Regions from separate parts of the Homo sapiens genome. Here region 1 is linked to region 2. Evidence: fine-mapped expression QTL. A gene starts in region 2. The other region holds a variant in brackets. All regions are shown on one strand. Distances are between the middles of the regions.

What was found. PIP is the estimated chance that this variant, and not a neighbour inherited with it, causes the effect. A credible set is the group of variants that fine-mapping cannot tell apart.
Region 1: its variant is the best candidate, but not a certain one, in a credible set for the expression of LINC02878 in whole blood (TOPMed, PIP 0.57).

The regions. Positions count from the first base shown.
Region 1 is chr8:143,741,789-143,746,036 of GRCh38, reverse strand. The region is part of intron 3 of IQANK1 (IQ motif and ankyrin repeat containing 1); the gene reads right to left. Among named protein-coding and RNA genes, the nearest start is that of IQANK1, 9.8 kb to the right of the region's middle. The variant T/C (reference allele first, on the strand shown) is at 2,426.
Region 2 is chr8:143,694,865-143,699,382 of GRCh38, reverse strand. It overlaps LINC02878 (long intergenic non-protein coding RNA 2878), which reads right to left and starts at 2,268. Exons shown (of 2, transcript NR_015445.1): 1 at 1,742-2,268; 2 at 970-1,444. It overlaps ZNF707 (zinc finger protein 707), which reads right to left. Exons shown (of 6, transcript NM_001100598.2): 6 at 3,998-4,518.

The DNA.
Region 1 (4,248 bases), 47 kb before region 2:
TGGCTCACGCCTTTAATCCCAGCACTTTGGGAGGCCGAGGTGGGAGGATTGCTTGAGGCCAGGAGTTCAATACTAGCCTGGGCAACATAGTGAGACCCCATCTCTACAAAATAAAAAAATAGCCGGGGCATGGTGCTGTGTGCCTATAGTCCTAGCTACTCAGGAGGCTGAGGTTGGAGCACTGCTTGAGCCCAAGAGTTTGAGGCTGCACTGAGCCATGATCGCTGCACTGAGGCATGATCACAACACTGCACTCCATCCTGGGTGACAGAGAAAGACCCTGTCTCAAACAACAACAATAAGAAATGTATGAATGAGGCTGGGTGTGGTGGCTGAAGCCTGTAATCCCAGCACTTTGGGAGGCTGAGGGCAGATCACCTGAGGTCAGGAATTTGAGACCAGCCTGGGCAACATGATGAAACCCCATCTCTACTAAAAATACAAAAATTAGCTGGGCATGGTGGCACACACCTGCTATCCCAGCTACCTGGGAGGCTGAGGCAAGAGAATCGCTTGAACCCAGGAGGCGGAGGTTGCAATGAGCCGAGATCGCTCCACTGCACTCCAGCCTGGGCGACAGAGCGAGACTCCATCTCAAAAAGAAAAAAAAAAGGAAGAAATGCACGAATGAGTGAACTCCTGGCAGGAGCTCTGTGGTGACTGTCTTCTGTAAGCCCGGGTTGATATTGGGGAAAACAGCCAGGAAACTGATTGCCCTGATATCAACTGGGATGTGGGATTCTGGACAAGGTCAGTAGGGTGTTGCTGACCCAGTGAGTATGATCAGAGACACGTCAGGCTCTGCCAGCCGGACAGCAGCTGCCACAGTCTCTCACCCAGTTTCCAGATTTGAGTGAAATTCAGACTCACAGCTGCCAAACTGAAGAGGAGGCTGGAAGCCCTAGGGCGTGCGGCTCTCCCAATACAAAGCATGCCAACCACTCCCACCAGTTACGCTCCTACTCTGTCCCCAAAGGAGTCTGTGGCCATTTGCCAGGGTTGTGTCACCAACATAGAGGGGTACAGAGAGGCTTTTCGAGGACGGGAACATGGTGTGTAGCCGGACACTGACATTGACGCCAGGACTTTGACAAGATCACCACACCCCTCTGTTTACTGAAGTCATGGAAGGCACTGTGGCCCAAGTCCATCTCTAGTGGGTCCAGTGGGTCTGTAGGTCTGCCCTGTTTATTGGGATACACATTCTTAGCTGCCAGCTGAATGCTCACATTGGCTCCTTGGCCGGAGGAGTAAGGGTTGTTACGGCAGAAAGAACCAAGTGAGAGCCTGTGGAACTTCCTCCCTCCAGCAAGACAGTGAGCCTGATAGAAGGAGTGCTTTGCTTGAGGAATTGCAGAGGTTAACACCAACATCAGAGACCAGGGAAGCAGGTGTGGTGGTTTCCATCTCCATTAGATTCACCTGCCTGGCCTTTGCAAAAACAAATTAATAATGACCGTGGGTGATGGACTGCAGTCAACTTGAAGAGGCAGCAGGGCCAGTGAGAGCTGCCACGCCGCGAGTGGTCTTTTTGCTGCAGCCGACCAACATAGCCTCTGTACTTGGTGTGTGACTAGCATCTTGGCAAATTCTTTCTTCTCAATATCCTCGCTCGGGAGGGTCAGAAGCAGTTCATCTTCACCGGCAGACAGCAGCACTCCTTCCCTGCCTCGTCTTGGGGCTGTGGCTGCTCCTGGGTTTTCTGGTGGGCGGAATAATGTCCCCCAAAGATGTCCACCTCCTGCCCCCTGGAACTTGTGAATACTTGACGTGATTCAGCAAAAAGAGAATGGAGACTGCAGATGAACTAAGGTTGCTAATCAGCTGACCTTAGGCCAGGAAGAACATCCCAGATTACCCGGGGAGATCCAATGCAATCACGAGGGTCCATGAAAGTGGAAAAGGAGCCAGGCCTGGTGGCTCACGCCTGTAATCCCAGCACTTTGGGAGGCTGAGACGGGCGGATCACAAGGTCAAGAGATCGAGACCATCCTGGCCAACATGGTGAAACCCTGTCTCTACTAAAAACACAAAAACTAGCTGGGTGTGGTGGTGGGTGCCTGTAGTCCCAGCTACTCAGGAGGCTGAGGCAGGAGAATTGCCTGAACCTGGGAGGCGGAGGTAGCAGTGAGCCAAGCCCCAGTGCACTCCAGCCTGGCAACAGAGCGAAACTCCATCTCAAAAAAAAAAGAAAAAGAATCCAATAAGTATTCAGAAACTAAAAACTACAATATATGAAACTAATGTTTCTGATCTCACTTATCTGTAGATGGCAGCATAATTATTCACACAACAAAATCATTTTTTAAATATGCACTGTGAGGCAGATGCCGTTTCAGTCACTTCTGAAGCAGGCTTCGTGTTCTGGTGTTAAATGTCCTGCCAGATCTACGGAAGTTCAGCTTAAGGAACACACCCAACACGA[T/C]ACATTTCCAAGTGCAATCGTAATTCCACTGAGCAAGCGAGGAGGGGACGCATGTCTAAATGTTAACAAAGATGCACTCTCGAGGTGTTCCATCTTATCAGCAAAATCCAGACTGGAAGACTCAAGTCAAACAGCCCAAGTCCTTGAGAACAAAAATTGTAAAGACGAAAAAAAGATGGAGAAAAACCCATACAGTTATACTGAAAGAGGCTTGCCAGACGTGGGAGCACACACCTGTAGTCCCAGCTACTCAGGCTGAGGCAGGAGGATCACTTAAGCCCAGCAGTTGGAGGTTGCAGTGAGCTAGGGTTACACCTGGGAATAGCCCCTGAACTCCAGCCTGGGCAAGACAGCTGACCCTGTCTCAAAAAAAAACAAAACGGAACAAAACAAAAACCCAAACCAAAAACAGTGGAAGAGGGAGGCAGAAGTGGAGAGCCAGAGGGAAGGAAACCCACAGCACGGCTGGCTTTCCTCGACGTCAGCCTGGCAAGGCCGTGCCCGGTGGCTACCCTGCAGAGCTGGTAGATGTGGTGGCTGCTATAGCAGCAACGGGACACAGGCACAGGGCCCCCCCATCTCCTGGGCATCTCAATGGTCCCAGGAGTTCTGGGGGGTGGGGGATAAAGCACCCGGTGAAGGGGTCCATAGATCTAGGCTGTGCCGGGACACTGTAGGGCAAAAGATAGATTCTGGCACCTGTGCCTCCGTCCAGCAAGAAAGACCCCGTGCTTGCCAGGCCCCTTAGCACCGTGACAGCAGCACAGGCCATGTTTGGGACCATCCCCAGTGTGGCCCAGGGCTGCTGGCTAAGGTGAAAGTAGCCAGGCTGCTTGGGCCACACTGTCTGGTTGGAGGATCCCGTGTGCAGGAGGTAGGGTGGTTGTGTATCCTCTGGCAGGCCCCCCTTTGGAGCTTCCCGCAGGTTTCTGGGGCTCTGGGGCTCAGCCACACCTTCCTGGTGGAGGCTATTCTTCTTTTGGAAAGCAGCTCCTGGAATGCTGCCTTCCCAGGCTGGGTTTCCCAGCTCCACATCACACCCCTGGGCAGCCCAGCAGCCATCTATTGCGTGGTGGAAAAGGTGTTTGTGGTGTTTGTGGGGCCCAGCCCAGATGACACAGGCGAGTCCCGGGGCCCAAGTGTCTACATCGCATTCGCCCCTTTTGCAGCTCAGATGCCTCCTGGGGAGGGCACCAATGCAGAGGAAAGGCTGGGAAAGGCTCCCACACCAACTCCAGCCTGACCTCCCCCGCATGCTGTAGTCCCAAGCAGGGAGATCCTGGCGGGCAGCAGCAAGGGAAGCCCCCGGGGGGCACCTCATCACCCACTTCCTGTGGGTGGGAAGAGTCACTTGAGCGCTGTGTATCACTGACTCCGGACACCAGTGAGGGCTGGGCTGGCTCTCCAGGGCCTGAAGTGAACGAGCCCGGGACAGTGGTGATGCGGACAGCTGGGAAAGGCTTGGGGGTGGCTCTGTGAGGAGCAGGGAACACCGAGCTCAAAGGGAGGTTCTGCATCCTGTGGGGACGCTCCTAGAGAGAGTCGGCCGCAGCGAGGGCACAGACAGGCTCGTGGACATCACGACTGCACCATGGACGTCAGCCAGCAGGCCCCGGGGCAGAGTGGCATGGGGGCAGGAATGGTGGTTACACCAACGGCATGAGCTCATTTTCCAAGATGGATCTAGAGCAGGTCCCACCCACGCAGAACAAGCCCTCTTTACAGATCACCAGACGTGGGGAGAGCAGGGCTGCAGGCCAATAAGAGGAGGCTGGGGAAGGCGTGCTCTGTCTGGATGGACTTCCTGGAATAGCCTCGAGTGC
Region 2 (4,518 bases):
GGTGGCTGGGCACAGTGGCTCATCCCTGTAATTCCAGCACTTTGGGAGGCCGAGACGGGTGGATCACGAGGTCAGGAGTTCAAGACCAGCCTGGCCAAGATGGTGAAACCCCGTCTCTACTGAAAACACAAAAATCAGCTGGGCGTGGTGGCGGGTGCCTGTAATCCCAGCTACTTGGGAGGCTGAGGCAGAGAATTGCTTGAACATGGACATGGTGGTCGTGGTCCCCGGTGGAGACACTGCAGCTGGAGGTGGGGTGAGTGGACTGAGCACCTTTGAAGTAGTGTGATCAGAAGACGAGGCTGGCCGACCCCTCTGTGGAAAGGACACAGCCCTCCAGCTGTGGCAATGGGTGTGCAGGCCACAGGCTCACCTGTCCTAAGGCGGGGCTGCTCTGCCTTTGTTTGGATTGTGTGTGGTATCATGGCTCTCCTGCAGTCAGGCTGCCACACTTCCTAAGTGTGCACGTGTGGGGAGGGGAGGAGTGGGGAGTGTGAGTGATTCTGGGTGCTCAGGTGCATGACAGCTGGTCTCCCCTCATGGAGTTACCACTGTAACCGGACTCCAGGCTTCCACCATCGGCCCTCGAATTTTACATAGGATGGTTGGCCCCGGGAAAAGGAGCCTCTGAAGTTTTAAAATCCAATATGGCTCCAACATTAAGCTCACACTGGGGACCAGCTCAAAACCCACCCATTTCACATTCCCCAAAACGTTTCGTTTGGTGGGCCTGTGATTTAGCTCCCAAGAGGTCACAGATACAAACACAACGAAGCGAGCTATTAGGGCTGGACATGCACTCAGTGACGCAGCTGTCCCTCCACCCTGGCCCGGGTCAGGTTCTGCCAACTCCACACGCACACTCTTCGTTTGAAGGGTCCCAATGGGTTTGAGGACCTGTAAGACTGGTACGCACGGCGGACCCCATGAACACCCAGAACAACAGTGAGTAGAGTTTATGATACGTTGTAACTAGAATGACCCCAAATATCTTTATTTACTTGGCATTGTACTTCCCAAAGAAGAATATTGCAGCCACTGGGCCTCCCTTCAGAGTGCAGAGAGGCAGCTCCAGGAGCTGAGCCTGCTGGGATGCAACTCCTCCTCCTAGCACCATGGACTCCTTCATCTTTCAGTCAAGGCTGCCAGTGGCTACCACGTGGCCCTCCCATTCCTGGAGCTCTCAGCTGCATCCGCCACCTGCTCTCTCGACGGACTTTTTTTTTTTTGAGATGGAGTCTCACTCTGTCGCCCAGGCTGGAGTGCAGTGGCACGATCTTGGCTCACTACAACCTCCGCCTCCCAGGTTCAAGCAATTCTCCTGCCTCAGACTCCTGAGAAGCTGGGATTACAGGCGGCAGCTACCATGCCCTGCTAATCTTGGTGGACTTTACACTGGACACATGTGTGCTGAGCGCTAACACAAAGGCCAGGCAAGTGTCCCCTGGAGACAGAGGGGTGGAAGGCTAGGTCACAGGCATGGCTGTCAACGGACCCTGCTGTGCACCCATTCTGGCCGCGAAGTAGCTTCATGCATTCTCTGCCCAAGATAAATGCAGAGAAAACTCGGCTCTACAGGCTCACAGGGAGTGACGGCTGCTGGCCCCAGGAAGGAAGATGCTCCTTACGGGACACCTGCTGTGAGCCCCTTCTGTCACCCCACCCCCGCCTGGGTGGTGAGGAGGCCAACAGGGCAAGATGCAGAGCCTCCCGGCCCCTCACACCCCCATGGGCTCCTCACCACCATTCTCTCCCCAGGCCTTTTCTGTGGACCTGACCTTCTTCAGCGACCCAGGAGGCAGGAAGGGAAGCCTGAGTGTTAGAAGGAAAGACAACTAAGAGCAGCAGCCTGACCGCAGCTGAGCACGGTCGTGCTCCTCCCTGGGGAAGTGCCAAGGGAGGGACCCCCTGCTCTACCCGGAGCCCTGGAGCCCTGCTAAGCAGGGTGGAAAGCCTGCAGCCCGGGGGGTACCGCGACTGTGGCCCAACCATCCAGTGTGTGAGCCCTGGATGATGAGGCCACCAAGAGCAAGGCAGCCCGCTTGGACAACTGACCATCATCTGACGAGGCAGCGCATCACCCACGTCTCTGCTGTTCACATTTAATCCTGCACAAGAGCGTCACAAAGTGACAGCATTGTGAGGGACTAACGACCAGGCACAGGTGACCCTGGACGCGGCCAGTGGCTTCCTGCAGGGCGCTCAAAACCCAAGTCCTTATGATCCGCCGCATCTACTGCCGAGACACCAGCTGCTCCGTCCCCACCTGTGCTCAAGCACCTGAAGGCCCTTCCAACGGCGCCCGCTGGGCAGGGGACAAACCAGACACGAAACACACATGCGCTTTTACCAGCCTGGACTCTGTAAGAGAAAGGCACCCCCATATCCCCCCTGGGGAGATTTCCACTTATCCTGCAGGGCCCTCACTGCCTCACCGGGCTCTGCCAGGGCCTGCCCCGCAGGGGCAAGTGCTTTTCCTACACAGGGTCTGTGGGCCAGGACAGACCCAGAGGAGCTTCTGCTACGGGCTGAATGGTCACTCTGAAATTCCCATGTGGAAGCCCTAGGCCCGACGTGATGGTATGAGGAGGTCTCTGGGAGGTGATTTGGCTTCGATGGGGTGATAGGGGTCATGGGATCCGGGCCCTCACAAGGAAAAGGTGACACCAAAGCCCCTCCTGACATGAGGATGCCTCTGAACCAGGAGGCGCTCGCCGGAAACGGACCCTGTTGGCACCTCTACCTCGGACTTCCAGCCTGCAGAGCTGGAGAGAATAAACCTGTGTTGTCTGTGGGGCTGCCGGTGGTGTCCTGGTAAGGCAGCCCTGTGACTCCATGACCGACAGCTGCTCTCTACAATCTTCCGTGAGCACGAAGAAACTCATACTCATGCTGCAAATAAAAGATTTGGGGAACTTTTAAGCACACCAACCTCCCGGCTTCAACAGCTGTCAACATTCAGCCAATACTGTTGTGTCTTTCTCCTCTTTATTAGAATCGTAAAGTACATCCCAGGCGCCACGTCATTTCCCCACAAAGACGTCCAAATGCATCTGAGTGAGGATTCCTCCGTAACCCTGTGTCACCATCACCGCTAGCAGCCAATTCCGCACCCCCACCCGACTCACGGCCCACCCACCCGACTCACGGCCCACCCACGCAACTCACGGCCCACCACGCAACTCACGGCCACCCACCCGACTCACAGCCCACCCACCCGACTCACGGCCACCCACACGACTCAGTCCATCCACCCGACTCACGGCCCACCCACCCGACTCAGTCCATCCACCCGACTCACGGCCCACCCACCCGACTCAGTCCATCCACCCGACTCACGGCCCACCCACCCGACTCAGTCCATCCACCCGACTCACGGCCCACCCACCCGACTCAGTCCATCCACCCGACTCACGGCCCACCCACCCGACTCAGTCCATCCACCCGACTCACGGCCCACCCACCCGACTCAGTCCATCCACCCGACTCACGGCCCACCCACCCGACTCAGTCCATCCACCCGACTCACGGCCTACCCACCCGACTCACGGCCCGTGCCCACATTTCCATGATTGTCTCAAAAGTGACTTCGCACTCGGTTTGCTCCTACCAGGGTCACACACAGCCCCCTCGGCCTTTCTGCGTGCCCGTCTTCCCACAGAAACGTCGCCGTCTGGTGGCATCTCCAGCCGGATCTGGCTCAGGGCTTCCTCTCGGTGTGTTCAACCTTCTCCTCATCCCCCTATTTCTTGTAAACTCGTTTCTGATTCCAACATTACATATGCATCTGTTGGCTGGAATTTTTTTTTTGAGACGGAGTTTCACTCTTACTGCCCAGGCTGGAGTGCAATGGCGCAACCTTGGCTCACCACAACCTCCACCTCCCGGATTCAAACGATTCTCCTGCCTCAGCCTCCCGAGTAGCTGGGATTTCAGGCGTGAGCCACCACGCCTGGCCTGGCTGCAATTCTTAAAGAAAAACAGGCAAAAGCAAAAATAATTGGCTAACCTGAAACACGGCAGTGTCCCGACCCATTCCCACGGGGGTCTTCCCTTGGGAACACCACTGGCAGATTTTTATTTCTGGCTGGATAAGCAGACACCTTAAGTTTAAAACAAAGAGGTCACCTCTTCCCCCACGAAATGCGATGTGGTGGATATGGCCACCTCACTGCCCTGAGACCCAACTTGATCTCCCAACTCCAGGTGCATGACCCAGGCTCTGACCAACAGAGCTGGGTGGAGGCCGTTCCTGCAGCACTGGGGGTGGCCCTGACCTAACCACCACTCCTAATCCTTGAATGAGGTTCAGTATTACAAAGGCTCTTGTTTCTACGGCCCAGCGCAGAGGCTGCAGGAGGGTCTTTGCCTCTGTGCAATGCTCACAGCTGCCTCGCCCAAGACAGAGACAAGAAGGGAAGCCAGACCGGGCAGCCAGCATGGGGTGCAGAGCCAGGAAGGAAAGGCCCAGCAGACGGCGACTCGGGGCCAGGGTGGAGTCCCTGAGCCAGACGGCTG